Regions from separate parts of the Homo sapiens genome. Here region 2 is linked to region 1. The links come from fine-mapping of genetic effects on gene expression. Tissue or cell type: whole blood. Region 1 holds a variant in brackets; the other region holds the start of a gene. All regions are shown on one strand. Distances are between the middles of the regions.

Region 1 (2,500 bases):
AGTCTTACTAGAGGACATAACAGATGACACGGGTTTTTTTGTTTTTGAGACAAGATTTTGCTCTGTCACCTAGGCTGGAGTGCAGTGGCACAGTCACAGCTCACTGAAGCCTCCATCTTCCAGGCTCAAGCAGTCCTCCTGCCTCAGCATCTGGAGTTGCTGTGACTACAGGTGTTAGCCGCCACACCTGGCTAATTTTTTTTTTTTTTTTTTTTTTTTTTTTTTTTTCAGAAACGGTCTCACTATGTTGCCCAGGCTGGTCTCAAACTCCTGGGCTCAAGCAATCCTCCCACACCTTGCTGGGATTATAGGCATGAACCACTGAGCTTGGCCAAATGTCAAGTTTTAATAATAATCTTTTTTAATATTCTTTGTAAATTTGTGTTTTTTTTGTTTTTTTTGTTTTTTTTTTTTAGATAGTCTCACTCTGTTGCCCAGGCTGGAGTGCATTGGTGGGATCTCAGCTGACTGCACCTCCACCTCTCGCGTTCAAGCAGTTCTCATGCCTCAGCCACCCGAGTAGTTGGGATTACAGGCATGAGCCACTGCACTCAGCCTTAATAGACCCTTTTTTTTTTTTTAGACAGAGTCTTGTTCTGTTGCCCAGGTTGGAGTGCAGTGGCGTGATCAATTTTGGCTCACTGCAACCTCCACCTCCCAGGTTCAAGCAATTCTCCTGTCTCAGCCTCCCAAGTGGCTGGGACTACAGGCATGTGCCACCACACCTGGCTAATTTTTGTATTTTTAGTAGGGACGGATGGGGTTTCGCCATGTTGGCCAGGCTGGTCTCGAACTCCTGACCTCAAGTGATCCACCCACCTCAGCCTCCCAAAATGTTGGGATTACAGGCGTGAGCCACCTCACCTGGCCCTGACCCCAATTTTTTTTTTTTTTTTTTTTTTTTTTGAGACAGAGTTTCACTTTTGTTGCCCAGGCTGGAGTGCAATGGCTCGATCTTGGCTCACCGTAACCTCCGCCTCCTGGGTTCAAGCGACTCTCCTGCCTCAGCTTCCCGAGTAGCTGGGATTACAAGCATGGGCCACCACGCCCGGTTAATTTTTGTATTTTTAGTAGAGACGGGGTTTCTCCATGTTGGTCAGGCTGGTCTCGAACTCCTGACCTCAGGTGATCCACCCGCTTCAGCCTCCCAAAGTGCTGGGAGGCATGAGCCACTGCGCCCGGCTGTGTGTGTGTGTGTGT[G/C]TGTGTGTGTGTGTGTGTGTGACGGAGTTTCGCTCCTGCTGCTCACGCTGGAGCGCAAATGGCGCAATCTCAGCTCACTGCAACCTCTGCCTCCTAGGTTCAGGCAATTATCTCACCTCAGTCTCCCGAGTAGCTGAGATTACAGGCACCCGCCACCACGCCTGGCTAATTTTTGTGGGGTTTTTGTTTGTTTGTTTTGAGACGGAGTCTCGCTCTGTCACCCAGGCTGGAGTGCAGTGGCGCGGTCTCGGCTCACTGCAAGCTCCGCCTCCCGGGTTCACGCCATTCTCCTGCCTCAGCCTCCCGAGTAGCTGGGACTACAGGCGCCCGCCACCACGACTGGCTAATTTTTTGTATTTTTAGTAGAGACAGAGTTTCACCATTTTGGCCAGGCTGGTGACCCCTATATTTTAAGTGCCTACTAGAGTCTGGTAGTGTCCTATACATCACATATATGTGATTTTACTAATCTTCACAACAACCCCACACAAAAATCCCACGAAGTTGGCACTTTTTTTCTTCTTTAAAATTTTATTTTTCTGTGTGCATTTGTTTTATAAACGGGGTTCTCGCTATGTTAAACAGGCCAGCCTCAAGCAATTCTCCCACATCAGCCTCCCAAAGTGATGGGATTACAGGCATGAGCAACCTTGCCCAGCCCCCCACCCTTTTTTTTTTTTTTTTTTTTTTGAGACAAAGTCTCACTGTCGCCTAGGCTAGAGCTAATTTTTTGTATTTTTTTGTAGAGACAGGGTTTCACCATGTTGCCCAGGCTGGTCTCAAACTCCTAGGCTCAAGCAATCCTCCCACCTCAGCCTCCAAAAATGCTGGGATTACAGGCGTGAGCCACCACACCTGGTCGGCAAAAAATCCCAATTGATGAAACTGGGGGTCAGAGAGGTTGAGAAACCTGCCCAGGGTTACATACCTAGGAAGTTGTAGAGATGGGATTCCAGCCTAATGCCTGATGCTCCCTTACTCCAAAACACAGACCCTTTTTTTTTTTTCCTTTGGTGACAGGGTCCCTGTCACCCAGGCTGGAGTACAGTGGCATGATCTCGGCTCACTGCAGTCTCTGCCTCCCAGGCTCAAGCAGCCCACCCACTTCAGCCTCCCAAGTAGCTGGGACTACAGGCATGCGCCACCACGCCCCGCTAATTTTTGTATTTTTTTGTAGAGATGGGGTTTTACCATACTGTGCCGGTTGGTCTCGAACTTCTGAGCTCAAGCGAGCCACCCCACTCCACCTCCCAAAGGGCTGGAATTACAGGCATGAGCCACCATGCCCGGCCATCAGAAC
Region 2 (2,500 bases), 24 kb before region 1:
GAATCCCAGCTCTGACCCTGAAAAACAACCTCAAGACTGTGGAGCATGTATTTAACATTTTTAACCCCCAGATTTCTCATCTGTAAAATAGGGATAATGCCTATCTCCCCAAACTGTTAAAGCATGTTAGCGCAATCCCTGGCACTAAAAAAAGGATCAGTAAGTGGTAGGTGTTACGTTATCATCAGGAGGAAACCAGGACAGGAAACATGGAGGAGACTGGAACCCTGCGTGGTAAGAACTTTGGTCGAATCATCTCTTAGGAGAGGATACTTTCCCCTAAACTTGTTATAAGGTTCAGCGAAAGAACAAGAAGCAAAGCAAGAAAGACAGTTTTCTCTCTCCTCCCTGCAGCTGATACAAGATACAAACAGATACTGGAATGGCAGAGTAGACAGTGTGCCGCCAAGGGGCTGCTGGGAACCAAACCCACCACCAACCACCATTCACCTGAGTATTTGACTTCCTTCGCTTCTTTTCTGGACTCTTCATTTGCAGACCTGGAAGAGCGGCAAAAGGAAGACGCAGACAAGTTTCCCTGAGGTTTCCCCAACCTCTTTTCTCTCAGCCATGCTCTGAGGAACTCCTTTAACGTCAATACATACTTGCTTATTTATTCAACAAATGCTAACAAGGGGTGCAATATGAAAAATAGATTGTGAAGATGATCATACTCTCAGCTACGTCTTCCTTTAAATGAAAGATATCCCATCTTTCGATATCCTCAAGCTCCAAGTGAGTACTGAATTCCATGTGGCTCCAAACCCTAGAGTCCTCAATGTGTGACACCTGCCCCCAACCCCTGGAGGATTACACCCACCCATCCTTTTCACCTGAGCCTCCCTTCAAGCCTTCAGACTGTGAAACACCCCCCGCCCACCATCCCTCCCCTCTGAGGTTCCCAAGTCCTGGGCCTCTTCAGCCCCCGCCCCTCGCAGCGCGCTCACCGGCCTTGCCCTGCTTCCTCCCGGTGCTGGGCGGCGCAGGGGGCGGTGCGGGGCCGCCACCTCCCTCCAGCTTGTCCGGTGGGGGCGGCGCCGAGGCGGCCATGGAGTGGGGGACCCGGGTTAGCGGCAGCGGCGGGGGATGGAGGCGCCCTTGGGCTGCACCATCGCCCAGAAGGGGTGTCAGGGGCAGCCCAGGCCCCCGAGCTGCAGCAACCACAAAGTGCGACGACAGGGAAGCGCCGAGCCGCCGCGCAAACTGCGCGCTCTCTCCAGACTCGCCGCCCGCCAGCGGCGGCAGCAACCGGAACCGGAACTCGTCGCGGCCACCACCACTGAGCGCTGCGGGGAGGGGGAGCAAGGACCGGACGAGACGCTACGCCTGAAAACAGGCGGCGGGCGAGGGACGAGGCTTACCACGGCACCACGCGAGTGGAAAGGGTCGTCTCCGCTAGCGGCGGCCCACACCAGCTCACCGAGGGGCGGCAGCGCGCGGCCCGGCTGCCGGACCGTACCATCCCGGGCGGTGGAGCCGCCGCGGAGGGGCGCGCGCGAGCCGAAGGCGCACCCGGGAGGCCCAGGTAGCCCGGGGGCCGGTGCTGGGGCGCCGGGCAGGCCCGGCTCCCGCCTCGACCCACCCGGAGCCAGCCCCCTCTGCGGACACGACATCCCCATGGGGACGGTGGCGCGAAACGCCCCACTCTGCCGCACCCAAACTCTGCAGACCCCCAGCTTCCCTGGGCGGCCGCGACCTCCCGCCTCCCCGTCTGCCGCTGAGGGCCCGCGGCGTACACAATAGGCTTCCCAGAAGGGTTAAGAGGCAGAGGTAGAAGAAATACGGACTTTAATGAAGAGTTTTCCCTTTGGTATAAGTGAGACCCGTGGAAACATCCAAACAGCAAAAGGAGGCCAGGATGAAAACGGTCAACTCTCCCTTATCCACAAGGCCAAAAGAGGGGGGGCCGGCTTGCTGTGGTGTGGCCACCCCGGGCCTAGGCTGGGCCGGGCCTGTAGAAGGTACTCAGGAACTGCAGGTTTTGCGTTTCCCCTCCATGAAACTGACAGGCATTCGGGCTGACTTCTGCCTCTCAGTCTCGCGGTAAGAGACCCAAGTTTTTCTAGTCCTAGATGGAAATAAATTTCATCTGCCTCAGGTCTCTGGTATAAAAGGTGCGATCCCAGTTACCTCACAGGCCTAGGCGAGGAAAATGCCAAGAGCTGTAAAAGGGCTTGGAAAAGTCAAAAAGGTGATGTATAAATGTAATAATTGATTATCATTTTGTGCTCAAGAATAAGCAATGGAAAAGAAAATAGGAAAGTAAGTCTACAGCCCTAAAATATATGCATATAAAACTTTAAAAGAATGCAGTTCCAACTCTACAGATGGTATGTGGGGATTGTCTACTGCTTTATAGTCTCAATGCCCCTTTTCTCACCTCCACAAAATCCACCTGGGAGAGTTAACTGTACAAGAGGCCCAAATTCAGTCACCCCCACCCCGCCCTCCCAGAAAGGGAGGCAGGGCAGAGGCTTCAGGAGGAAGGGCTGCACTTTGG

What was found. PIP is the estimated chance that this variant, and not a neighbour inherited with it, causes the effect.
Region 2: PYGO2 starts here. The variant in region 1 is fine-mapped to the expression of PYGO2 in whole blood (INTERVAL, PIP 0.95).

What each region holds. Positions count from the first base shown.
Region 1 is chr1:154,984,837-154,987,336 of GRCh38, forward strand. All of the region lies in intron 1 of FLAD1 (flavin adenine dinucleotide synthetase 1), which reads left to right. Among named protein-coding and RNA genes, the nearest start is that of FLAD1, 2.7 kb to the left of the region's middle. RefSeq lists an enhancer at 776-1,465. The variant G/C (reference allele first, on the strand shown) is at 1,201.
Region 2 is chr1:154,960,527-154,963,026 of GRCh38, forward strand. It overlaps PYGO2 (pygopus family PHD finger 2), which reads right to left and starts at 1,256. Exons shown (of 3, transcript NM_138300.4): 1 at 948-1,256; 2 at 451-500. The coding sequence starts at 1,050. SHC1 (SHC adaptor protein 1) reads right to left here. Exons shown (of 12, transcript NM_001130040.2): 12 at 1,772-2,500. PYGO2-AS1 (PYGO2 and SHC1 antisense RNA 1) reads left to right here and starts at 1,012. Exons shown (of 1, transcript NR_171036.1): 1 at 1,012-2,097. RefSeq lists silencers at 802-1,261, 1,312-1,721 and enhancers at 863-1,603, 1,604-2,343.